Homo sapiens: one gene and its partners. The protein of the gene in region 3 purifies or fractionates together with the protein of the main gene of each other region. This does not show direct contact. Each region holds a gene or a part of one and is shown on either strand. Other genes may lie near its edges.

Region 1 (7,695 bases), on a different chromosome or scaffold from region 3:
TTGACACAGGCATAGGATGTGAGCCTTGATGGAGGGGCTCAGGGACCTTGGGAACTTGAAGACAGGGGCGGGAAGTGGGTGGGACATCAGGGAGGTTTTCTGAGAGACGTGCCGTCTAAGCTGGAATAGGAATTAGCCAGGAGATGGATTAGGAAGGGCAGTCCCAGCAGAGGGAAACAGCTGGACAAAAGCAGCGGAGACGTGCACTTGAGTAACTGCATGTTCACTGGGGCTGGAACATAGAGCTTAAGGGGGAAAGAGAGGAGAGGTGGGACCACGGGTCGCAGGGACTGCATCCCACAGGGCCCTGTGGGCTGTGCTGGCATTAAGACTTGGGCTGGTGGAATTGAGAACCATGGAAAGGTTTGTAAGTAGAAGCAGAACATGGTCAGATTTCCTCTGAGATCAGTCTAGGATGATCACCAAGAATGACTGGAAAGTCAAGATGGAGCATGGGGCCCAGGAGAAGGATGGCCAGGTGGCCCAAGAGAGAAGCCAGGGCTGCAGGGGCAGAGAGAGGGCCCCAGGAGAGGGTACTCACAGGGGCTGGGGAAAGATGTGACTTTCACCTTTGGAGCTCACAGTCCAGTGAGGAGGGTAGTAAACATCTAAAAGAGCATTTTTCAACCTTTTTCCGTTACTGCCTCTCCTCAAGGAGTCATTTTAGACTTTTGTTCTAATTGCCCAACCATGAAACTTACATATCACAGATATACTGTATATCTGGTTTACATATTAGATACATTTAAAAGAGTGACCTTTTTTTGGCCACCCCAGCCCAGCCCCTCTGCAGTTGCAGATGAGGAGTAGTGAGAAAGAAGAGAGAGGGTGAGGCAGGAGGCAGATGAAGTCAGCCTAGGGAAGAACACAGAGAACCCAGCAAGGACCTGGACTTTTGTTCTCAATGTGACACAAAGCCACTGGAGAGCTTTAAGCATAGGTGTGATGAGACCAGATTTCAGTCCTTACATGCTCACCCAGGCCGCTTTATGGAGGCAAGAAAAGAGGGAGGAAGGGAGACCAGGGAGAAGGCTGGGGCAGGTATCCTGGAGGTGGAGGGTGAGGGTGGTGGTGGATTAAAGCAGGGGCTATATGGGGCAAGAAGTGATGATGTTCTGGATTCTGGATGCATGGCAAAGGCCTGTGTGGTGATGGGGTGGGGCTGAGGATGACTCCAAAGTCTTTACCCTGAACAACCAGAAGGATGAAGGGGATGTTATGGAGAAAAGAGATGAACTGAGGTGAGCCCCTCTTACCTCCACAGTTGCAGGTGAGCGTGGCGGCTGCACCTGCTCAGCGCACTGCAGGAAGCGGCGCATATGCTCTGCACAGTTGCCCACAGCTGCCTCGTTCTGTCGAAGACACTCCTCGAAGGCCTCAAAAGGCTGAGCACAGGCCTGGCGGATCTGGCGGATGATTGGGCTGTGGGGGTAGGGCAGTTCAGCCCCTGGGAGATTCCCACCCCACTGCCCACCCCCCACACTGTCTCATACTTGCCCGCACTCACTGGGAGGATGTGCACTGGGCAATGCTCATCTTAAGGTAGTGACAGTCCCGCTGCCAGGATTCCGGCTTGGCCGCCACACACTGGCCATACTGCTCCAGCTCCCGGCCACAGTAGCGAGCGGTGACCTCTAGGGCCGCCTGCCTGTGGGACAGGATGGGCTGAGGATCATTCCAGGCAGTAGGCAAGCAAGGGAATTCTTTTTTTTTTTTTTATTTTTTAGAGACAGGGTCTCACTGTGGCCCAGGCTGGAGTGCAGTGGCACGATCATAGCTCACTGTAGCCACCAACTCCTGGATTCAAGTGATCTTCCTGCCCCAACCTCCTAAGTAGCTGGGACCACAGGCATGAGCCACCATGCCCAGCTAATTTTTTATGTTTTGTAGAGACAGGGTCTTGCTATGTTGCCGAGGCTGGTATTGAACCCCTGGGCTCAAGCGATCCCCCTGCTTAGACCTCCCAAAGTGCTAGGATTACAGGCATAAGCTATGGTGCTCCGCAAAGAAAGGGAGTTCTGGTCTGGGTCTGAAGTAGGACTAGGAGTTCAGGGCAGATGTGGGAATCTGAAGGATCCTGAGATGGTGCCAAAGAAGTGGAGAGGTGAGGCCCAGCCCTGGGGCTTGTAAAGCAGGAGGGGAGCTTCTGGGGAGAGAGTGGAGGTTCTAAAACAAAGTCTGATTAATGTAAGGTAGGCCTTCAGGGTCCTAGAAGACAGGCCTTGAAATCCAGGCATCCCCCAGTAGGCCTGGGGATCATGCACAGAAGACTTGGGGCCTTAGAAGAAAGATCTAGAATTCCAGGGAGAGCTTGAGAGCCCTTAATGGGTTTGGGGGTTCTAAAAGTGAGGTTTAGAGCTCCAAGAGGTGGGGTCTCAGGTCCTGGGGAAGAGTGTCTTAGCCAAAGAGTCTTCAAGATGAAACCTAAGGCCCTGGTGCGGGACTCAAGGTCCCAGGGGCGTGAAGTCTGGAAGCCCTGGATGAGGTTGGTGCTCTGGGAATCCTGGGCAAGGTCAGAGTGGTCTAGGAACAAGTCTGTGGACCCTATAGGTGAGGACTGGGGTCCCAGGCAGATCTGGAAGGTTCAAAAGGTAAAGTTTGGTGATCAAGGGGGAGGAACCTGGAGCTCTGAGGATGGGTGTAGGAGTCATAGAGGTCCCTAAATAAGTCTGTAGTCTTAGGATTTCAGTGTGAAGGCCGGACCTGGGGTACTGGGGGCAGAGATTGGGTGAAGAGTGACTGGACCGAAGTCCTAAGCAGCGCGAGAGGGGGCGAGGCCTAAACGCTTAGAGGGCGGGGCTTGGGCATGCGGAGGGTTGGAGCTCGTGAGCGAAGGCGCTGAATCCTGAGGGTCAGATCTCCAAGAAGGAGGGAGGCTGGTCCTAGTTCCCGAGGTCCTAGACTAGGTCTAGATCACTGGGTAAAAGAAGGGGAGCGGCAGCACGTATGGGGTAGGCGCTCTCACTACTCACATCTCGAGACCTTTGCCGGCGTAGGGCTGTCCGGGGGGAACGACCCGCCTTTTCCGGTATCGGTTGTCATGGCGGCGCCCAGCCCAGCCTGGTTTTTTCCGGTAGCCAATTGAACTAACAACCCCGTTCCCTTTAGGACTAATCTGTCACGGCGGCGCCCTACCTCTTCTTCCGGCCCGGCTCGTCATGGCGGCGCCCTGAGTAGCCACTTCCGCCCTCTTCTGGCTAAATTGCTTCATCCCTATTTCCGGCTTGCCATGGCAGCGCTCGGGGTTTAACGGAAGTAAGCAATGGAAAGTATGGTGGTGCCTCGGGTCCAAAGAGAATGCGCCGCTGAGTTGCGCGGCACCTGACGGGATTGAGCCTCAGACACAAGCGCTCCAAATCTCCGACTGTAGCTGGTGGGAAGCGCCTGCTGTTGCTGCAGCGTCTCAACATGTTGTTCCCATTTTCGTTGGGTGCTGTAGCGGTAGGCTGTTGGGCTCAGGGATAGGGGGCCTGATTCCTAACGCCGCGCTGCCACCATCGGCCTTGCGCAGACGCTGATAATCCCCCTGGCACCCAGGTTCATGCGAGCGCTTGGAACAGGAGGGAAGAGGGAGTCAAACCAAGAGCCGAACTAATTCGGCTTGGGCCTGCCATTTACCCAGCCTGGGACCCAGACGTTTCCCCATCCCTTAGCGTACGCCAGGACAGACATGGCGTTTAATCCTGACTCCATGAGACTATCAAGCTAGTTACTTCCTCTCTTTGTAATTAATTCCTCCTAATGTAGCAACATTTCCCCCTTCCTTCTCATCTGTCTTAAAAGTGTGAGGTTAGACCTGGGCGTGAGTTTCCCCACATAAGAGACTGGATATCCCCTGGTCAGAGAACTGAGCATCAGTCCTGCCGTTTCGTTTGCAGATCTTTCAAGACTCTAGTCAAAATGAGCAGAACATTTTGCAGTTAATCATAGAGTTGAAGATGAACGAGAAGATGAACGAGAGCTACTTGATTGTGAACTAGTAACGACCACTTGGAGTCGCAGTGTGTCTGTAAAATGATGATGACAGTGACATCATAGAGGACATAGTGCAAGTGAACAGTTTGATACTGAGCTTGGAGCCTCAGTAGTTCTGGATAAGTGAGAGCTGTACGGGAGGTTGTAACCATGAGCTACCCTGGTTGGCAGTTGACATCCGAGGACCAGCACTGGTCATCGCACAGAAAGAAAACTTTACACCTTGAGATCCCTCCATTCTTCTTAAACTTCCAAGTGTATGTTTGATGGGAGAAGAGGGGAAGGGATCAACATTTAAAGGCTCTGGAAGGAGTCAGATAACTGTTTTTGGCTTCAAATGTAGAATGAATCCCTAGATTTTCCTCTACTGAGAGAATGAAATCTTAACCCATTCCGTTCCCTTGTTGGTACTCAGAAACGGATACCCCAAAGATGCATTTTGACATGCTGAAAGGCCTTAGAAGCTGCCTTAGAAGATCTGTCTAACCTTGTCTTGTTGGTGTGTGGAAGTGGGAATGCCCACAGGTGCACAGGGAGGGAGTTTCTGAAATTATCTGACCGAGAAAGCAAAAAAAAAAAATCAATTGTCTTAAACCCGGTTTCTAGGGATCTCATTAAAGAACTAGGAAAAATTAACCACCTGTTAACAGAAAAACCAAACTGAAATGTTTTAAAGAGATTTATTTTGAGCCAATATGAGTGACCATGGCCTGGGGAACACAGGCTCAAGAGGTCCTGAGAAAGTGTGCCTGAGACAGTAGAATTACAGTTTGGTTTTGTACATTTTAGGTGGACAGGAGTTACAGACAAAGACATAAATCAGTACATGGAAGGTACAGATTGTGTTCAGCTGGGTGCAGTGGCTCACGCCTGTAATCCCAGCACTTTGGGAGGTCGAGGTGGGCGAATCGCTTGAGGTCAGGAGTTCGAGACCAGCCTGGCTAACATGGTGAAACCGTGTCTCTACAAAAAATACAAAAAATTAGCCAGGGATGGTGGCAGGCACCTGTAGTCCTGGAGCTACTCAGGAGGTTGAGGCACGAGAATTGCTGCGGAGGTTGTAGTGAGCCGAGACCACACCACTGCACTCCAGCCTGGGTGACAGAGCATGACTCTGTCTCAAAAAAAAAAAAAAAATTCTACGGTATTTTTATAATACATTTTGTAGTACCACTTATAACCACTTGGGTGCGTGGGTTGCCCATTAAATCAAACAGTTTACAGTTCACCCTTGAACAACATGGATTTAAACTGTACTGGTCCACTTATACTCAGATTTTCTTCTGCCGCTGTCACTCTGAGACAGCAAGACCAACCCCCCTTCCTCTCCTCAGCCTACTCAATGTGAAAAGGACAAGGATGAAGGCCTTTATGATGATCCACTTCCACTTAATGAATAGTATATTTTATCTTCCTTACGATTTCCTTAATAACAGTTTCTTCTCTCTACTTTACTATTGCAAGAATACAGTATATAATGCATATAACATACAAAATATGTGTTCATCTATGTCATCAGTAAGACTTCAGATCGACAGTAGGCTATTAATAGTTAAGTTTTGGGGGAGTCAAAAGTTATATGTGGATTTTCTACTGCATTGTTTAAGGGTCAACTGTAGATTCAACGACTACCTAGGATTGTAGAGTTGACTGATAGCACTGGGACTGATGATAACATCATAACCTGTAAGAAGTGTCAACAATGGTGATGGACCCCCAGCAACCCTGGAGTGGGGATGTCTAAAGATAGATGTCATCCACCAGGCAGGAGTTGGTGCTGCCAGTGTGTCATGTACTGCAGCCTCTTTTATTTATTTATTTATTTTTATTTATTTTTTGAGACAGCATCTCGCTTTGTCACCCAGGCTGGAATGCAGTGGCACAATCTCGGCTTACTGCAACCTCCACCTCCCGGGTTCAAGCGATTCTTCTGCCTCAGCCTCCCAAATAGCTGGGACTACAGGTGCGCACCACCACGCCAGGCTAATTTTTGTATTTTTAGTAGAGACGGGGTTCCATCATATTGGCCAGGCTGGTCTCAAAGTCCTGACCTCGTGATCCGCCCATGTCGGCCTCCCAAAGTGCTGAGATTACAGGTATGAGCCACAGCGCCTGGCCTGCAGTCCCTTTTACTACAACAAATATGGGAAAGAGTCACAGGTGTGGCATACGGTGGTGGCTTCTGCGTTAGAAACATAGGCCAAGTACAGTGGCTCATGCCTATAAATCTCAGCACTTTGGGAAACTGAGGTGGCCAGACTGCTTGAGCCCAGGAGTTTGAGATCAGCCTGGGCAACATGGCGAAATTCTGTCTCTACAAAAAGTACAAAAGTTACCCGGGTGTGGTGATGTCATAGGTAGTAGATTTATCCTTCAAACATCAACAACTAAAAAATCTGGACAAAATAGGAGACAACAGAGTTCAGACATTGGAAACAAGCATTGTAGCACAGTGGTCCCCAAGAGAAAGGAGACAAATGAAGTGACCTTAGTGGCCCGGCTTATGTCTGGAGAGTTAGTTTCTAGGCTACATAGCCCAGGGGTGTCCCTGAGTTGGGACAAAGTTGAGAATTTGGAGAGGCCAAGGCAGCTAGTTTGTAAGGCAGGGTACCAGAGAGTAGCGCAGCACAGACCTGCAAAGGGTTTCCTGCACGTGTAGCGCACAGCATGCCTGTGAACACACTCCTGGAAACCAAGGGAACTACCAGGAAGGTGCAGGCAGAGCAATCCCCGGAGCCATAGTGGAGACCATCACTGTGCACTGGCTAAACTACTCAAAGATACTGCCTGTCTAGTGAGGCAAAATTAGCCCTAATGGCCGCTCTGGTCTCACCTAAGTAAGCTCAGAAACACTGAAGCAAGCTCTCAGTTCGAAGGAAAATGGAAATCTGGCATATGAAATCAAGATCTCCAGATACAGTAAATATAACTCTTATGACAAAATAGCACAAAGGCCAAGAGACAGGAAAGTGTGTGCTGTTGCTAAGTTGTTCTACTACCTGTGAAGTGGTAGAATATTACATAAAAGTGTGACAAGTCTAAAGATGTACACTAGAAATTTTAAGAGAAACAACAAAAAATGAAAATGGAGGTAGGGTTAATAAGCCAACAAAGGAGATAAAAATGAAATAATACAAAATAAATTAGCCCCGCACAAGTATGGCCATCTGATTTAAACCCTGTCACTCCAGCTGGAGTGCAGTGGCGTGATCACGGCTCACTGCAGCCTCGACTCCCAGGCTTAGACGATACTCCCACCTCAGCCTCCTGGGGAGCTGGGACTACAGGTGCACACCACCATGCCTGGCTAATTTTTTTAGTAGAGATGGGGTCTGGCTGTGTTGCCCAGGCTGGTCTCAAACTCCTGGGCTCAAGCAATCATCCCACTTCAGCTTCTCAAAGTGCAGGGATTACAGGCGTGAGCCAGTGCACCCGGCCTATGGCCATCTGATTTTTGACAGAAGTGCAGAAGTAATTCAATAGAGAAAGGATCGTTTTCAAGTAACAGTCCTGGAGCAATTGGATATCTATTGGCAAAAAAAAAAAAAAAAAAAAAAAAAAAAATCTTGATCTAAACCTTACACTTTGTACAAAAATGAACTCTTAAGTGGAAAATGGATCATAGATTTAAATATAAAGCATAAAACTATAAAACCTTTAGAAAATAACATATGAGAAAATCTTTGGGCTAGGTGAAGAGTTCTTAGACACAACACCAAA
Region 2 (5,654 bases), on a different chromosome or scaffold from region 3:
TTTTCAAGGGAATTGTTTTAACATGTTAAGAGGCTAAGCACAAAAGTAGCATTCAAGTGTTGGTTAGACACTTTTGAATATTATTTGATTTAAACATTTCTTTCAAATGGCATGCAAGAAATGGCTTAGGGGTTCTCAGGACTGAGGAATCAGGATGGGAACTTGATAACAGGGACCTTAGGTTGAAAGCTATTGTTCTAAAACAAGGTGCTTTCCCGGCATGGGAAGCAAATGCTGGGTTTTACAAGACCACAAGTGAGGCAGTGCCTTTGACTTGGCATTATCTACTGTGGCAACAAGCAGCAAGGTCATGATAGGGTTACTGGTGGAATAGCCTTGCTTTTTGGAACAAAAATTCCCACAAATTACCCACATATCAAAGTTATCCATTAGCTAACAAACATGAACGTTTTCTAGCAAATAAAACACGCATATCACAAAGTCCTCTCTTTAAAAGAAAACATAAAGAAGAGAAAGAGAAAAGAAGCTGATGACGGTGAAGCCTGATTTAGCAGATACGTTTATTCAACACAGTGCATGATTCAAAGCATCGGATATTCCACAGCCAACAAGGTTTCCTATTCCCTATTACAAAATACCGGATACCCTGAATATAGCTCATTCAAGGTCCTCGTTCCTTTTTCCCTATATCTAGAATTAAACAGGTTTCCCCGTTTAGCGCACATTTCACGTTCGCTGAAGGCTTTGGGGAGAGGGGGAAACAGAGCTTATGACTGCCCCTCTGAACCAAAGGCACTTAATGTTAAAAGATAAAGCACAGTAGAGTCACCCCACAGACATTCCTATGTGTTCAACGGCTGAACTTCAGCATACCATCACCGGCCCCATGTGGGATTCATCATAACAACGTAAAAGACACTGATTTCCTTGGAAAAACAAAGTGCAGTACGAATATAAAGGAGTCACCACACCCCTCTTCCGAAAATAATACATAAGAGAACTCTTACTTTACATGATTAGTATCACTCAAGGTTCACACATGGAAAAAATAGCTAAAAAATAATCTATAATAAATTCTCACTATGAAGTCACAATAGAATCTGATACCCTTTTTAGAACTGGTGAGTTGGAGAGACACCCAGAGGTCATGCTGTCCATCCCTTCATTTGATAGGGGAGGGCACTTGAGGCCCAGGAAGGTCAAGCGTCGGACCTGGGGTCTAACCCCTGTGGCAGAGCCTGCGTAGGACGCGGGCCTCCTGAAGCCTAGCTCAGGGTTCCCTCCACTCCCCTTCCTCTTTAAAGACTCTCAAAAGTAAAATATGGTGATGATCTCCAAAGATGCACCACACCATAAAGCACATGCACTGACCCAGGTCAGCAATTTGGTCTCACAAGGCGGTTCCTTTGGCCATTGGGCAGGTATGTAACCCACCTCAGGGTGGGAATTCTTTGCATGGGATCGTTCAAAGTTCTGAGAAAAGCCCAATGTAGGTCAGACACGACTGCTCCTTGGACTGGGGAAGACTTTCCTTGGTTGTCAGTCCATAGTGGGCAGGCGGTCGGCTGCACAGCGGAATCCCAGATTCGAAGCAGAGCTATCAGGTGTGTTCTGGCTCCGAGCAGCACAGCGATACCTGTAACAATAAGACTGTGTAGAGAGAAAGAGCAAGGTAAGTGCTACTGGGACTCTCAGCTGAAGGCTCTAACCCATCAGATGCATATTGCACCGGCTGTAGACAGTGCTTCCCCACAACCCTGCCTGTATGGATACTTAACATGTATGCTTTAAAAAGGGCAGCACATTCAAGAACTAACCACATATTTTCCAACGTCCTTCACCTTATAAATGTAACACGGATATAGTACAAAGATGTTCAGCATTAGATATAACAGCAAAAAAGAAAAATGTAACAACCAATGATTGCCTAAGTTTAGGCACATCCATATAATAGAAAAGTAAGCAGCCATTGAAAGTCATGTCTTTACATAGTATTTAATGACACAGGAAGTTTTCATGATAAAATGTTAAATGAGGCCAGGCGCACTGGCTCACACCTGTAATCCCAACATTTTGGGAGGCTGAAATGGGAGAACTGTTTGAGGCCAGGAGCTCGAGGCCAGCCTGGGCAACACAGCAAGATCCCATCTCTACAAAAAATTAGCTGAGCATGGTGGTGTGCACTTGTAGTCACAGCTACTCTAGAGGTTGAAGTGGGAAGATCTCTTGAGCCTGGGTGTTTGAGGCTGCAGTACACCATCACTGAGCCACTGTACTAAAGCCTGGGTGACAGAGCAAGATCTTGTGTCCAAAAAAAGAAAAAAAAACAGTTAAAATGAAAAAGGCAGAATATAAAGGTGTATATGTGGTATGACCACAGTGTAGATAACTACATGTGCCAAGAAGAAAAGACTGGAAGATTCCGAATGCACCACAATGTGCACAGTAGTTATCCCTCAAGCAATCTGAGTTTCATGTTTCCTATATGAAACCTATTCAGTATTCCAATACAATAAGAATATATATTAATTTTTGAAATTAAACCAAGTAATAAGTGATAGATGGCCACTGAAAAAATACTAAGAACAACACTAAGACACCATTTAATACCTAAATAATATTTATGATATTATTTATTATCTAAATCATATTTATGATATCATTTAATGCCAGTAGATCGGCAAAAAATTAAACAACAAGTCTAGGAACATCAAACATAGGAAAGGCTGTGGGACAACATTGCTTTTTAAAAATACATTGCTCTTCCATTTCTTTGTATCCTCTTTTATTTCATTGAGCAGTGGTTTGTAGTTCTCCTTGAAGAGGTCCTTCACGTCCCTTGTAAGGTGGATTCCTAGGTATTTTATTCTCTTTGAAGTAATTGTGAATGGGAGTTCACTCATGATTTGGCTCTCTGTTTGTCTGTTATTGGTGTATAAGATTGCTTGTGATTTTTGTACATTGATTTCGTATCCTGAGACGTTGCTGAAGTTGCTTATCAGCTTAAGGAGACTTTGGGCTGACACAATGGGGTTTTCTAGATATACAATCATGTCATCTGCAAACAGGGACAATTTGACTTCCTCTTTTCCTAATTGAATACCCTTTATTTCCTTCTCCTGCCTAATCGCCCTGGCCAGAACTTCCAACACTATGTTGAATAGGAGTGGTGAGAGAGGGCATCCCTGTCTTGTGCCAGTTTTCAAAGGGAATGCTTCCAGTTTTTGCCCATTCAGTGTGATATTGGCTGTGGGTCTGTCATAGATAGCTCTTATTATTTTGAGATACATCCCATCAATACCTAATTTATTGAGAGTTTTTAGCATGAAGGGTTGTTGAATTGTGTCAAAGGCCTTTTCTGCATCTATTGAGATAATCATGTGGTTTTTGTCTTTGGTTCTGTTTATATGCTGGATTACATTTATTCATTTGCGTATATTGAACCAGACTTGCATCCCAGGGATGAAGCCCACTTGATCATGGTGGATAAGCTTTTTGATGTGCTGCTGGATTCGGTTTGCCAGTATTTTATTGAGGATTTTTGCATCAATGTTCATCAAGGATATTGGTCTAAAATTCTCTTTCTTGGTTGAGTCTCTGCCCGGCTTTGGTATCAGGATGATGCTGGCCTCATCAAATGAGTTAGGGAGGATTCCCTCTTTTTCTATTGATTGGAATAGTTTCAGAAGGAATGGTACCAGTTCCTCCTTGTACCTGTGGTAGAATTCGGCTGTGAATCCATCTGGTCCTGGACTCTTTTTGGTTGGTAAGCTATTGATTATTGCCACAATTTCAGAGCCTGTTATTGGTCTATTCAGAGATTCAACTTCTTCCTGGTTTAGTCTTGGGAGAGTGTATGTGTCGAGGAATTTATCCATTTCTTCTAGATTTTCTAGTTTATTTGTGTAGAGGTGTTTGTAGTATTCTCTGATGGTAGTTTGTATTTCTGTGGGATCGGTGGTGATATCCCCTTTATCATTTTTTATTGGGTCTATTTGATTCTTCTCTCTTTTCTTCTTTATTAGTCTTGCTAGCGGTCTATCAATTTTGTTGATCCTTTCAAAAAACCAGCTCCTGGATTCATTAATTTTTTGAAGGGTTTTTTGTGTCTCTATTTCCTTCAGTTCTGCTCTGATTTTAGTTATTTCTTGCCTTCTGCTAGCTTTTGAATGTGTTTGCTCTTGCTTTTCTGGTTCTTTTAATTGTGATGTTAGGGTATCAATTTTGGATCTTTCCTGCTTTCTCTTGTGGGCATTTAGTGCTATAAATTTCCCTCTACACACTGCTTTGAATGTGTCCCAGAGATTCTGGTATGTTGTGTCTTTGTTCTTGTTGGTTTCAAAGAACATCTTTATTTCTGCCTTCATTTCATTATGTACCCAGTAGTCATTTTTGTTCAGTTTCCATGTAGTTGAGCGGTTTTGAGTGAGTTTCTTAATCCTGAGTTCTAGTTTGATTGCACTGTGGTCTGAGAGACAGTTTGTTATAATTTCTGTTCTTTTACATTTGCTGAGGAGAGCTTTACTTCCAACTATGTGGTCAATTTTGGAATAGGTGTGGTGTGGTGCTGAAAAAAATGTATATTCTGTTGATTTGGGGTGGAGAGTTCTGTAGATGTCTATTAGGTCTGCTTGGTGCAGAGCTGAGTTCAATTCCTGGATATCCTTGTTAACTTTCTGTCTCGTTGATCTGTCTAATGTTGACAGTGGGGTGTTAAAGTCTCCCATTATTATTGTGTGGGAGTCTAAGTCTCTTTGTAGGTCACTCAGGATTTGCTTTATGAATCTGGGTGCTTCTGTATTGGGTGCATATATATTTAGGATAGTTAGCTCTTGTTGTTGAATTGATCCCTTTATCATTATGTAATGGCCTTCTTTGTCTCTTTTGATCTTTGTTGGTTTAAAGTCTGTTTTATCAGAGACTAGGATTGCAACCCCTGCCTTTTTTTGTTTTCCGTTTGCTTGGTAGATCTTCCTCCATCCTTTTATTTTGAGCCTATGTGTGTCTCTGCACGTGAGATGGGTTTCCTGAATACAGCACACTGATGGGTCTTGACTCTTTATCCAATTTGCCAGTCTGTGTCTTTTAATTGGAGCATTTAGTCCATTTACATTTAAAGTTAATATTGTTATGTGTGAATTTGATCCTGTCATTATGATGTTAGCTGGTGATTTTGCTCGTTAGTTGATGCAGTTTCTTCCTAGTCTCGATGGTCTTTACAATTTGGCATGATTTTGCAGTGGCTGGTACCGGTTGTTCCTTTCCATATTTAGTGTTTCCTTCAGGAGCTCTTTTAGGGCAGGCCTGGTAGCAACAAAATCTCTCAGCATTTGCTTGTCTGTAAAGTATCTTATTTCTCCTTCACTTATGAAGCTTAGTTTGGCTGGATATGAAATTCTGGGTTGAAAATTCTTTTCTTTAAGAATGTTGAATATTGGCCCCCACTCTCTTCTGGCTTGTAGAGTTTCTGCCGAGAGATCCGCTGTTAGTCTGATGGGCTTCCCTTCGTGGGTAACCCGACCTTTCTCTCTGGCTGCCCTTAGCATTTTTTCCTTCATTTCAACTTTGGTGAATCTGATAATTATGTGTCTTGGAGTTGCTCTTCTCGAGGAGTATCTTTGTGGTGTTCTCTGTATTTCCTGAATCTGAATGTTGGCCTGCCTTGTTAGATTGGGGAAGTTCTCCTGGATAAT
Region 3 (6,744 bases):
TCTCCCGGGTTCAAGCAATTCTCCTGCCTCAGCCTCCCGAATAGCTGGGAATACAGGCACGTGCCACCATGCCCAGCTTATTTTTGTGTTTTTAGTAGAGACAGGGTTTCTTCATGTTGGCCAGGCTTGTCTCGAACTCCTGGTAACCATAAAAATGTTGACAAATTTAATATGGGTTAATGTTTAGAGCACTGAATGAAAAAACAGTTACATATTGGCTGGGCACAGTGGCTCATACCTGTAATGCCAACACTTTAGGAGGCCAAGGTGGGAGGATCCTTTGAGGCCAGGAGTTCAAGACCAGCCTGGCCAAAATAGAAAGACCCCATCTCTATTATTATTATTATTTTTAATAAAGTTACATATTGGCTGGGCATGGTGGTGGCTCACACTTGTAACTCCAACACTTTGGGAGACCAAGACAAGAGGATTGCTTGAGGGCAGGAGTTTAAGACCAGCCTAAACAACATAGTGAGACCCCATCTCTATTTTAAAAAATAAAAATAAGTGGCCAGGCACGGTGGCTGACACCTGTAATCCCAGCACTTTGGGAGGCCAAGGAGGGTGGATCACAAAGTCAGGAATTCGAGACCATCCTGGCCAATGTGGTGAAACCCCGTCTCTACTAAAAAATACAAAAAAAATTAGCTGGGCGTGGTGGCACATGCCTATAATCCCAGCTACTCAGGAGGCTGAGGCAGGAGAATTGCTTGAACCCAGGAGGCAGAGGTTGCAGTGAGCTGAGATTGCGCCACTGCACTCCAGCCTGGGTGACAGAGCTAGACTCCGTCTGAAACAAAAATTTTTTTTAAATAATAATAAATAAATAAAATAAGTTACATATTATTACAACTATATAAAATTAACTACATAGGAAAAAGACTAGAAGAAGACATCAAAAGTTAATGGTGTGGTGTCACTTGGAGTACTGTAATGAATTCTTATAATGAATTCTTTAATTCTTTTTTTTTTTTTTTTGAGATGGAATTTCGCTCTTGTTGCCCAGGCTGGAGTGCAATGGCACGATCTCAGCTTGCTGCAACCTCCACCTCCCGGGTTCAAGTGATTCTCTTGCCTCAGCCTCCCGCATAGCTGGGACTACAGGTGCCTACCACTGTGCCCAGCTAATTTTTGTATTTTTAGTAGAGACAGGGCCTTCACCACGTTGGCCAGGCTGGTCTCAAACTCCTGACCTCAGGTAATCCACCTGTCCTGGCTTCCCAAAGTGCTGGGATTACAGGTGTGATCCACCATGCCTGTCTGAATTCTTCAAATTCTGTAATGAATTTAAAATTTTCTCTATATAACCTTAGTTTTTCTGAGCTGCCTGGATATGTATAATACCTGTTCAAGGTCACAGTAAAAACACACACACCCAAATCCCACTCCAGAAGTCTTAAAGAATGTATCTCTTGGCTGAGCACGGTGGCTCACACCTGTAATACCAGCACTTTGGGAGGCTGAGATAGGTGGATCACAAAGTCAGGAGTTCAAGACCAGCCTGGCCAACATAGTGAAACCCCATCTCTACTAAAAATACAAAAATTAACTGGGCATGGTGGTGCGCACCTGTAGTCCCAGCTACTCGGGAGCCTGAGGCAGGAGAATCACTTGAACCCAGGAGGCGGAGGTTGCAGTGAGCCGAGATTGTGCCACTGCACTCCAGCCTGGGAGACAGAGCAAGAGTCCGTCTCAAAAAAAAAAAAAAAAAAAAAAAAAGAACGTATCTCTTTATAGCAGTTTTCCCAAAGGGGCAGCATGTTCATTTATATAGCCCAATGCGTAAGGAATGTCCTGAAATTCTCAGCTTCCCTGCCCACACCTCATGTTTCTGGGGCATGACCCTTCCCACTGCACTCAGCACCATGAGAAGTACAGTGTCACAGGAAGTGCTCCATGGCCACTCCCTGAAATTCAAGTTAATATAATATAGCCTGATTTTTCATTTACTCACATGAGCCTAACCTGCTTTTATAGTGACAAAAATATATATAGAGAGAGAATTTTTAGCTCAGGTGCGGTGACTCATGCTTGTGATCCCAGCACTTCGGGAGGCCAAGGCAGGCAGATCACCTGAGGTCAGGAGTTTTGAGACTGGCCTGGCCAACGTGGTGAAACCCTGTCTCTACTAAAAATAGAATGATATTAGCTGGATGTGGTGGCGCATGCCTGTAATTCCAGCTACTCAGGAGACTGAGGCAGGAGAATCGCTTGAACAGGGAGGTGGAGGTTGCAGTGAGCCGAGATGCAGTTGAGCCAAGATCACGCCATTGCACTCTAGCCTGGGCGACAAGAGTGAAACTCCAGCTCAAAAAGAAAAAAAAAAAAATTAAAACAGCAGAGGATATTTAAAAAACAGAGTGTGCCCTAGATTCTTTTTCTTCTCTGTCTATTTTAAGCATGATGCCAGGCTTGGCATTCATAGCTAGACTTTCATTGTTTCTGTTCTCTCCAGGAACTGGTTCAGACAGTAAGTTTGGGAGGCAACTATCTTCTGAACATTGGACCAACTAAAGATGGACTGATTGTTCCCATCTTCCAAGAAAGGCTTCTTGCTGTTGGGAAATGGCTGAGCATCAATGGGGAGGCTATCTATGCCTCCAAACCATGGCGGGTGCAATGGGAAAAGAACACAACATCTGTATGGTGAGTCTTGTCTTCTGTTGTGTGTAAGAACAGAACAGTGCCCCATCCGGAACTGGTATCTCCTTGGGTCCACAATGTCACAAGCCAGGCTGGAAGTTGCCTTGAGAAAATCCAGAAGGTTATTTTCCTATAAAATTTGTACCCCATTTGAGTTATGTCTCAGGCTACTTGGTTATCTTTGACTAGTGAAGGGAGAGAGTGGGTTTGGTGAAAAGGGAAGGAGCAACAAAGCATCAGTCAATTTATTGAGATTATTACCCTGCCCCCTAAAAATAGTAATAATGAATGCTTGGATTGTACGGAGCCCCATCCAAAATTCTTTCCATTCATACTTGGACTTCTGGATCTAGTTATTTGATCTTGGGCCCCATTTTTTCCACTGCAGAATGGAGTGATGATGCTTTATAGTGTTGTGAGGATTAAATGAGATGAGTGCCAGGCACAAACTCAGTGTTCAATTAAAGGGAACTGCTTTTATTATACCAGAGAGCTTAGGTCTCTGGATCTAATCCCTCTATTAATCCCTCTGTTTTGGATGAGTTTCTGTTTAGTGGTTGTCTTAGTCCATTTTCTGTTGCTATAACTGAATCCCACAGGCTGGATTTTTATTTTATTTTATTATTATTTTTTAGACAGTCTCACTCTGTCACCCAGGTTGGAGTACAGTGGCAGAATCTCAGCTCACTGCAACCTCTGCCTCCAAGGTTCAAGCAATTCTCCTGCCTCAGCCTCCCAAGCAGCTGGGATTATAGGCACCCGCCACCACGCCCAGCTAATTTTTGCATTTTTAGTAGAGATGGGGTTTCACCATGTTGGCCAGGCTGGTCTCAAACTCCTGGCCTCAAGTGATCCACCTGCCTCTGCCTCTCAAAGTGCTGGGATTACAGGCATGAGCCACTGCACCTGGCTTAGACTGGATAATTTTTAAAGAATAGAGGTTTATTTAGCTCACAGTTCTGGAGGCTGGGAAGTTCAAGAGCATAGCACCAGCATCTGGTAAGGGCCTTCCTGCTACATCATGACATGGTTGGGGATGAGAGTGGGCATGTCCACTCAGGTCTTTCTTCCTTTTATAAAGCCATCAGTCCCATCATGGGGCCCTGCCCTGATTACCTTATATGATCCTAATTACTTCCCAAAGGCCTCACCTCTAAATACTATACCATCGACATATGAATTTGGGGATTAAGTTTCCATCATGAGATTTGGGAGATGCATTCAAACCATAGTAGTGATTTTCATCCTCTTCTCTAAACATAGTGAAATTTCAGAACAGGCTGGGTGCAGTCTCAGAAAAAAAAAAAAAGAAATCTCTGAACAACAAATTTGTTTTCATTGCATGTCTTGTCCTTGTTATAGTCTCTGCTATTTTCACATGGATTTGGAATAGAAAAGAGATTTGAATAATAAGGTAAATGGCTCTATTTATTTGCAGTAACTGATGTAGGAGATAATTTTTAAAGACAACTTAACCCAATTGGTAGGGAAAATAGATAGTATCACCAGATAGAGTTTTATAGACTGCCTCCTTCCTGCACACCTTCATTGGTATTGAGTTATTGGTGCTCCCTAGTAACAGTGACAGACTCGAGGACTGGGATTTGGTAGATAATTGAAAGGGGAATGAGTGGCCTTGTGCAGTGCTTCATGCCTGTAATCCCAGCACTTTCTAAGGCCAAGGTGGGAGGATCACTTGAGCCCAGCACAACACAGCAAGTTGTGTTGGGCAACACAGCAAGACTCCATCACTTAAAAAAAAAGAAATTAGGCCCAAAACAGTGACTCACGCCTGTAATCCGAACACTTTGGGAGGCCGAGGCGGGTGGATCACCTGAGGTCAGGAGTTCAAGACCAGTCTGGCCAACATGGCGAAACCCCGTCTTTACTAAAAATACAAAAATTAGCAGGGTATGGTGGCAGGCACCTGTAATCCCAGTTACTCAGGAGCCTGAGGCAGGAGAATTGCTTGAACCTGGGAAGTGGAGGTTGTAGTGAGCCAAGATCACGCCACTGCACTCCATCCTGGACAACAAGAGCCTGGACAACAAGGCTTCGTCTCAAAAAAAAAATAAATAAGGAGCTGAGTGCAATGGCTCATACTTGTAATCCCAGCACTTTGGGAGGCCAATGCAGGTGGATCACTTGAGGCCAGGAGTTCAAGACCAGCCTGGTCAACATAGCAAAATGCCATCTCTACTAAAAATACAAAAGTTAGCCAGGCGTGGTGGTGCACACCTGTAATCCAGTGACTCAGGAGGCTGAACCACAAGAATTGCTTGAACCCAGGAGGCGGAGGTTACAGTGAGCCAACATCACACCATTGCACTCCAGCCTGGGCAACAGAGGGAGACTCTGTCTCAAAAAAAAAAAAAAGAAAAGAAAAGAAAATTAACATTAAAAAGGAGGAAATGTATAAAGTTGTATATCAGGATAACAAGTCAGGTATCTTTGACAGTGTTGTTTCTGTTTTCCCAGGTATACCTCAAAGGGATCGGCTGTTTATGCCATTTTTCTGCACTGGCCAGAAAATGGAGTCTTAAACCTTGAATCCCCCATAACTACCTCAACTACAAAGGTAAAGAGGCTTAGTCAGTCTTAAGATGTAACTTTCTGTAAAGGAATTGGCAGATCCTTCCTTTCTTCCTTCCCTGCCAGGTTTCTCCCATATTCACACCTCTTTTAGACTGGCTTTCCTGCCCTGGCCCAGCGTGGCTGTTTCCTACCATAGTCAGCCTGTATTCTATACTCATTAGTGCATTACCAGTTTGTTTCATTCCCTTTTGTTTTCTGCAGATAACAATGCTGGGAATTCAAGGAGATCTGAAGTGGTCCACAGATCCAGATAAAGGTCTCTTCATCTCTCTACCCCAGTTGCCACCCTCTGCTGTCCCCGCAGAGTTTGCTTGGACTATAAAGCTGACAGGAGTGAAGTAATCATTTGAGTGCAAGAAGAAAGAGGCGCTGCTCACTGTTTTCCTGCTTCAGTTTTTCTCTTATAGTACCATCACTATAATCAACGAACTTCTCTTCTCCACCCAGAGATGGCTTTTCCAACACATTTTAATTAAAGGAACTGAGTACATTACCCTGATGTCTAAATGGACCAAAGATCTGAGATCCATTGTGATTATATCTGTATCAGGTCAGCAGAAGAAGGAACTGAGCAGTTGAACTCTGAGTTCATCAATTGTAATATTTGGAAATTATCTACAATGGAATCTTCCCTCTGTTCTCTGATAACCTACTTGCTTACTCAATGCCTTTAAGCCAAGTCACCCTGTTGCCTATGGGAGGAGGTGGAAGGATTTGGCAAGCTCAACCACATGCTATTTAGTTAGCATCAGTTGTCACCAACAGTCTTTCTGCAAAGGGCAGGAGAGCTTTGGGGGAAAGGAAAAGGCTTACCAGGCTGCTATGGTCAACTCTTCAGAAATTTTCAGAGCAATCTAAAAGCGCCAAAATTCGCTATGTTTACAGTGATACTATTAAGAAAATGAATGTGATTCTGCTCTGTCTTTTTAAGTATGATCAAATAAAAAATTTGTACATCACAATCATTTCTACCAAAAAAACATGGTATAGCTTTCTTTTCCTAGTTTCAACTTATACTGCTTATAGCTTTAAGATCAGTTTCTGGTTTGTGTGTGTTTTTTTTTTAAGGAGATTTGCAAAATCTCCTTAACACTGAACAAAAAATGTAATTCCTGTGTTTTTTCTGCTTCTCACTTCTAATACCATTCTTCTGAATTGACTACCAGTTCAGCCTCTTTGTTAGAGATCTAATCAAGTTTTCTATTTAATTTTTCCTTAATAGATATGTTTAGAAATCTTGTTTTGTTTTGTTTTGAGGCAGAGTCTTGCTCTGTTGCCCAGGCTGGAGTACAGTGGTGTGATCTCGGCTCACTGCAACCTTCACCTCCCAGGTTCAAGTGATCCTTCCTCCTCAGCCTCCCAAGTAGCTGGGACTATAGGCACACCACGATGCCCAGCTAATTTTTTTTTTTTTTTTTTTTTTGTAGAGACGGGGTTTCACCATGTTGCCCAGGCTAGTCTCGAACTCCTGGGCTCAAGTGATCCACCTACCTCACAGCCTTCCAG
Region 4 (7,030 bases), on a different chromosome or scaffold from region 3:
GCACCCTCTGCCTCCTGGGTTCAAGCGATTCTCCTGCCTCAGCCTTCTGAGTAGCTGGGACTACAGGCGCCCGCTACCATGCTTGGCTAATTTTTGTATTTTTAGTAGAGACGGGGTTTCACCATGTTGGCCAGGCTGGTCTCGAACTCCTGACCTCAGGTGATCCACCCGCCTCAGCCTCCCAAACTGCTGGGATTACAGGTGTGAGCAACTGTGCCCGGCCAGGACTGAGTATTTCTGTCATTCCCCTGAAAATTCATATGTTAAAATCCTAACCCCCAAAGTGGTGGTGTTAGGAGGTGGGGCCCTTGGTACGTAATTAGGTCATGAGGGTGGATCGCTCATGAATAGGATTAGTGCCCTTGAAAAAGGGACCCAAGAGAACTGTCTAGTCTTCTTTCTATCATATGAGAATACAGTGAGAAGTCAAGAGTCTTCTGGAGGAGGGTCCTCACTAGAATTCAACCATGCTGGCACCCTGATTTCGGACTTTTGGTCTGCAGAACTGTGAAAAATACATTTCAATTGTTCTACACCACCAGTCTATGGGATATTTCTTATAGCAGGCCAAACTGAAAAAGATAAATATCACTTTCCATGATATGGACAAGGCCAGATATTATTTAACCATGCCACTATTATTGAGCATTTAACCCATTTCCACATTTTGCTATTGTAAAAAATGTGGTGGGTGTATATCCCTGTACACGAATCCCTGCAGATGCCTTTATACCCTTCAGGTCACAGCCCAGTCCTGTGCACATATCAGCCCTCAGTAAATATTGAGTGAACAAAGAAACCCAACCGGCTTCCAGGAACCTGGGGAGCACTTATCAGATAGATACAGCATTTAAATTTACAAAGACCCAACGCGCTGTCCAGCAATCACTCACCACTGCTCCTGTTGGCATGCTCCCTCCACCTCCTACCCGCTAAGCCAACTCTAGGGCTTAGGGAAAGGAGAAGATAGAAATTGCTTGCTCAGGACTCCCAGGTTCTAGTGCTTTCAGCAAACCTACCTGCTCTTCCGCACCTCCTGGTGAAGGGGACCTGCAGCCCTCCACTGCCTAGCTAACTACCACACATCTTTCAGACTCTGTTCAACCCTACCACCTCAGGAAAGCCATGGCTGACCTCCCTTTAAATCAACGTATGGCTCCGGTTCAGTGAAGGATACTAGTACTTAAGGTCACAGCACTTGCAGTTCTGTCATTATTTGCTCACAGGACTGACTCCTTTGCCCAATCCAGGGCAACACCAGACGGCAGGTACAATGTGTGTTTTGCTCTCCGCCCAAAATCTAACCCAGTGGAGGGCAAAATATCAATCCAAACAATGTGATTGACAAATAAATGTCTGCCGAATGAAATTTCAGATTCTCAAGCCGTTTGTTTTCACAAAAGGGAGGGGAAAGGGAGGAAAGCAGGACCTCCTACTCAGCCCAAGTGCAAAGACCGATGGGGGGCGTTTCAGGAGATAGCTCCCTCCTCCTGGCCCAGAGACCCGCCCAGACCAACTGGCTCCAGGGAACTGATGGCAAACCAGCATTCAACAAACCCAGACGCAATTAAGTGACACTGCCCCACTCCAGCCTGGTTCTCCCCAAGAGGGAGAACACAGACCGAAGAGAACAGGGGGCTTCTTTCCCCACCCACTTCCAACCAGAGAGTACCAGGCCACTCCTCACTGGTGATCCAAAAGGCCAGGGTATTGGGAGATGGAAGTGTTTCAAGCAACTCAACCCACACTTTTCTCCTCCCATTTGCCCAGTGTCCTTGCCACACCCAAATGGAAAAGAACGGGAAAATCTGGGTTGGGGGGAGGGTGCCAGGAACAGGAAGTTCCCTGGAACTTCAGGGGAAAAGGACCAGGATGGTCCTAAAATAAGGGAGCGCATAAGTTATGGAAAAGATGGGGAAGGAGGCCACAATATCTCATCACACACCCACAGCGAAACGAAGGCCAAACCCCAGACCTGGGCCGGCAGGCACACCCATTCCGACCTCTCTCAGGGATGCCTGGAGTCCCCCCCACCAAGTGTAGCAAACTACTCTTGGAGTCCACTCCTTTTCCACTTTTGTAAGATTTTGCAGTTTACACAGCTTCCTCCACTGAGACCTCATCCGACTCTCAGAACCACCCTATGGGGGTAGCTTTGCCTTTCTATATCATGCATGAGGAAACTAGCTCAGATACATTAAATGAACCGCCGCGTCACACAGCTAGAAAGTGGCTGAGGCTCGAGCCCGCCTCAGTTGGGTGTAGGAGCAGCTCCTCCGCCGGGGCGGGCTACGTCGACCCCACCCAGCCCACCGAGCCTGGCCTGTGGGCGGAGGCCCAGGTGGTGGCCCGCAGTTTCCCAGACGCCTGGGGCCGAAGCCAAGAACAAGGTGGCCCTAAACCAAGGTTTCCGGCAGTGCAGGTAGTAAGCACCCCCATCCCACCCCGCACTCACACAGGTGCAGGGCTCGGAGTCTGGAGCGGAGCTCACCCCGCAGCCCGCCGGCGTCCTGCCCGACCGGCTGTGCCCCGACCTGCATCCCCGCAAAGTTGTGGCCGTGGCGTAAGCACCCTGCCAGGGATCTCCCGGCGCCCCACAGCTGCCTCCTGCCCCTGCGTCCGGGAGCGCTTGGCGGCGAGGGCACCGGGACGCCCGCTGTCTCCCGCGTAGCACCCAGTGCCCGCCTGCCTGGCATGCACGCCCTCATCCCGGTGCCCCGGGGCAGCTCCCCGCACGTTCCGCAGAGGGCTGGAGCAGAGAGCGCAGAAGGGCACGCGGGACACACGTGCTGGCCCGGCCCGGATCCCTGCCCCACAGTCTCACCCAGATTGCCAGCAGCAGCCACGCCGGCCCGGCCCGCGCCATCCCAGCAGCGCTGCCCACCGCTGGCTCCTTTCTCCACTCCGGCGCCCGCTCCCGCCCGCCCGCCTGCTAGCTCCACCGCGGCCAACCACCACGGCCACTTCCCAGCCGCTCCCCGCCTCCGAGTTCCCGGTGCCACGTCTGCCAAAGCATGCGCAGCAGCTGGGGAGAGGCGGCCGGGAAGAAGTGCTCGCTGGGAGTTGTAGTCTGCAGCCTGGCTCAGCTGGGGGCTGCGGGTGCGGACTGGGCTCCGAGGCCACGTGGCAGCGAGTGAAGTGCGAAAAGGCAAGGTCAGGGAGTAAGGGAAGGCAATTAATGAGCGGGGGCTTACTCTGTGCCTGGAGCTTCAGAAACAGTATCTCACGCAGCTCACAGAAATTAGGTTTTATTTTCTCCACTTTGAGGATTAGGAGGCAGCGCAGGGAATTTAAGTACGTTGATCCAGATCACACAGCCGGTAAATGGCAGAGTCCAGGGCTGCCTGTGAAGGACAGGAAAAGCCCTCATCCCTGCCTCCCAGACTCCCTCCTGCTTATTCTATTTAACTTCAGTAAAACATTATTGAGCTGTTGGAAAACAATCTGGTGGTTCCTCAAAAAGTTAAACATAGATTACTATATGACCAGCAATTCCACCCTTAGGCTAATACCCAAAAGAATTGAAAACAGGTATTCAGACAAATGCACGTACACCAGTGTTCACAGCAACACTATTTACAATAACCAAAAGGTAGAAACAACTCTAACGTCTGTCAAAGGATGAATGGGTAAACAAAGTGTGATACATCCATCTAATGGAATGTTATTTAGCCATTAAAAGGAATAAAGTGGCCCAGCAGGGCAGCTCATGACTGTAATCCCAACACTTTGGAAAGCTGAGGCAGCAGAATCGTGTAAGACTAGGAGTTTGAAACCAGCCTGGGCAACATAGCAAGACCTCATCTCTGCTAAAAATAAAAATAAAATAAAATAAAATAGCTGGTGTGGTGGCAAGGGACTGTAGTTCCAACTACTTGGGAGGCTAAGGCGGGAGGATTGCTTGAACCTGGGATATGGAGACTGCAGTGAGCCAAGATCATGCCACTGCACCCCAGCCTAGGCCACAGGGTGAGACCCTGTCTCAAAAAAAAAAAAAAAAAAAAAGGTGGGGGGGAGAGAATAAAATGCTAATACATTCTACAATGAATGAATCTCAGAAATGTATGCTAATGAAAGAAGCCAGACACAAAAAGTCACATATGATGTGATTACATCTTATGAAATATTTAGAATAGGTAAATCCACAGAGACAGAAAGCATAGTAGTGGGGGTGGGGAGGAAGGAATGGGGAATGACTGCTTAATGAGTATAGGGACTCCTTTGGGAGTGATAAAACATTTTGGAACTAGATGGAGATGATGGTTCCACAACATTGTGAAGGTACTAAATGCCACTAAACTGTACACTTTAAAATGGTTAATTGATGTTATGTGAATTTTACCTGAGTAAAAATTTTCAAAAGAAAAAAACTCTTTATTGAACCCATTCCCTGTGCTAAAGCAGGGGTCCCCAAACGCTGGGCCTCTGGACAGTCTGTGGCCTGTTAGGAACCAGGAGGCAAGCTGTGGGCCAGCGAGCATTACCACCTGAGCTCTGCCTCCTGTCAGATCAGTGGTGGCATTAGATTCTCATAGGAGTGTGAACTCTATTGTGAACTGCACATTCAAGAAATCTAGGTTGTGGGTGCCTTATGAGAATCTAATGCCTGATGATCCGAGATAGAACAGTTTCATCCCAAAACCATCCCCTGTCCCCCCACCATCTGTGGAAAACTTGTCTTCCACAAAACCGGTCCCTGGTGACAAAAAGGTTGGGCCCTGCTGTGCTAAAGCATTCTTGCATGCAGTCAGTTCATACATTCAAGAATGTTTATTGAACACTTACTATGTCCTGAGGCTCAAGATATCCAGTAGTGAGATGAACAAGAGAACAGCACAGTCAGAGGTTGGTAAGTTATAGCTGAAAGGTCCTTGCCTTCTGTCAGGAGAGTCAAAGCTCAAAACTTAGAAGTTATCCATTACTCGCTTCCTATTCACAACAGGCCCATCCAACCCCTCACCACATCCTGTCAATTTTACCTCCAGAATATATCTCTCCTGCCACCTCCCAAGTCTAAGTGACTATCACCTAGGGAAGGGTAACAGTTTCTGAAAGAGTGTGCCTGCTTCTCCCCCATGCCATCCATATGTTAATGTCAGTTGGATCTTGCTTGCCCCTCCCCTGAAACCCTCCAGTGGTTTCCCATTACCCTTAGAATAAAATCCAAACTCTTCCCAAGACCTGCAAGCCCTGCATGGTCTAGGCCCTCGCCCGCCCGGTAGACCTCATCTCCTGCCTCCCACAACCCCTGTCCACTGGGTCCAGTTACACAGACCATCATTTCCTCACCCCTCCCCTCTCCAGAGCTGCTCCTGCCTCAGGGCTTGTGCTCCTCCCATTCTCTTTGCCTTGGCAATTTCCTTGGCCTTTGTCTGGCTGGCGCCTTTGTATCCTTCAGGGTTCTCCTATCTATCCCCTCTCAGAGATGCCCTTCAGAGCAGCCCATCTACAGGTGAGTTTACCCTCCCCACTGCCAAGCTCCTTTTTCTCTATCTCAACTTCTGCTTAGGTTCTGTTGCTTCTTTGCCCAGCACCTACCAAAACCCACAAGACTTACTGAGTCCTTGTGTTCATTGTCTCTTGCTCCAACCTGAATGTCAGTTTCCTGTCCCTCTGTTCATCACCTTGCTTCCAGGACCTAGCACAGGACGGAGCCACAGATGGTTCTCACTGTTCTTTTTGATGAATGACTGAATGATTGAGCTAAGTAATGTGTTGGGAAGTGTCAGAAATTCCTAAAGCAGTTTGGGGACAGGGCTTCCTTGGCATGCTCTGCTCTGCAACCTCGAACTTATGACCTGCACATGGGAAAGTGAGATTTGCACCCCTCTCTGTGGGTCTCTGTTTCTCATCTGTCAAATGAAGCAGTTGGTGAGGATGCAGAGCTACTGGAACACTCACGCATTGCTGTGGGAGTGTAAATTGGCTCACCTACTTTGGACAACTGTACATGTACAAAATCTGAGCCAAAATGTTCATGGCAGCTTTATTCACAGAAGCTGTTATGGACTTGTGTCCCCCCCAAATTCATATGTTGAAGTCCTAACTAACCCTTACTACATCAGAATATGACCGTACTTAGAGCCTTTGAAGAGGTAATTAAGGTTAAATGAGGTCATTGTGGTGGACCCTAATCCCATATGGCTGGTATCCTTACAAAAAGAGGACAGTAGGACACATATACAGAGGAAAGACCATGTGAGGACACAGAGAGAAGACAGAATGGCCAGTGACACGCCAAGGAGAGAGGCCCTCAGAAGAAATCAACCCTGCCAAAAGCTTGATCGTGGATTTCTAGCTTTCAGAATAATAATAATAATAAAAAACAACCTCTGTCATTTAAGCCACCCAGCCTATGGTGGTCTGTTACGGCAGCCCTAACAAACTGATACAGTAGCCCAAACTGGAAACAACCCAACTGTCAGAACAGGAGAGTAGATAAATTAGCGATAGCATATTCTGCAAAAAAGAGAGACAGAGAGAGAGAGAGAGAGAACAAACTCCTGATAATATGCAACAACGTGGATGAATCTCAAAACCCTGATGTTGAGCAAAAGTAGCCAGACACAAAATAATATGTACTGTATGATTCCATTTATCTGAAGTTCAAGAACAGGCAAGTACAATCTGCCTGTTCGATAAAAGAAAACAAGTGGATGAGGAATAGAGACGGACTGTGGGGAAAGCATGAGCAAACCTTCCAGGTACTGGAAATGCTCTGCATCTTGCTTTTTTGTTTCTCTGTTTTGAGACAGGCTCACTCTGCCACCCAGGCTGGAGTGCAGTGATGCAATCTCACTCACTGTAACCTCCATCTCCTAGACTCAAGTCATCCTTCCACCTCAGCCGTCCGAGTAGCTGGGACCTCAGGCTCACACCACCACACCGGGCTAATTGTGTATTTTTAGTAGAGACGGGGTTTTGCTATGTTGCCCAGGCTGGTCTTGAACTCCTGGGCTCAACTGATCTGCCTGCCTTGGCCTCCCAAAGTGCTGGGATTACAGATATGAGCTACCATGCCCAGCCTGTA

Evidence for each region.
Region 1: the proteins of FUCA1 (region 3) and CHCHD5 purify together in Homo sapiens (affinity purification with mass spectrometry; 2 studies listed by BioGRID and IntAct, with this or other methods). This does not show direct contact.
Region 2: the proteins of FUCA1 (region 3) and SUMF1 purify together in Homo sapiens (affinity purification with mass spectrometry; 2 studies listed by BioGRID and IntAct, with this or other methods). This does not show direct contact.
Region 4: the proteins of FUCA1 (region 3) and PDIA5 purify together in Homo sapiens (affinity purification with mass spectrometry; 2 studies listed by BioGRID and IntAct, with this or other methods). This does not show direct contact.

What each region holds. Positions count from the first base shown.
Region 1 is NC_000002.12:112,579,927-112,587,621, reverse strand, and holds the start of CHCHD5 (coiled-coil-helix-coiled-coil-helix domain-containing protein 5), read right to left. Parts: upstream 3,014-7,695; 5' UTR 2,975-3,013; coding exon 2,973-2,974; exon of another isoform or gene 2,969-2,972; intron 2,952-2,968; exon of another isoform or gene 2,807-2,951; intron 2,769-2,806; exon of another isoform or gene 2,704-2,768; intron 2,486-2,703; exon of another isoform or gene 2,350-2,485; intron 1,649-2,349; coding exon 1,508-1,648; exon of another isoform or gene 1,498-1,507; intron 1,423-1,497; coding exon 1,257-1,422; coding exon of another isoform or gene 1,089-1,256; exon of another isoform or gene 1-1,088.
Region 2 is NC_000003.12:4,360,644-4,366,297, forward strand, and holds the end of SUMF1 (formylglycine-generating enzyme isoform 1 precursor), read right to left. Parts: intron 1,612-5,654; coding exon 1,501-1,611; 3' UTR 503-1,500; downstream 1-502.
Region 3 is NC_000001.11:23,844,551-23,851,294, reverse strand, and holds the end of FUCA1 (tissue alpha-L-fucosidase precursor), read left to right. Parts: intron 1-2,455; coding exon 2,456-2,646; intron 2,647-5,121; coding exon 5,122-5,221; intron 5,222-5,439; coding exon 5,440-5,580; 3' UTR 5,581-6,218; downstream 6,219-6,744. UniProt on the Homo sapiens protein: Alpha-L-fucosidase is responsible for hydrolyzing the alpha-1,6-linked fucose joined to the reducing-end N-acetylglucosamine of the carbohydrate moieties of glycoproteins.
Region 4 is NC_000003.12:123,063,001-123,070,030, reverse strand, and holds the start of PDIA5 (protein disulfide-isomerase A5 precursor), read right to left. Parts: upstream 3,007-7,030; 5' UTR 2,867-3,006; coding exon 2,825-2,866; intron 1-2,824.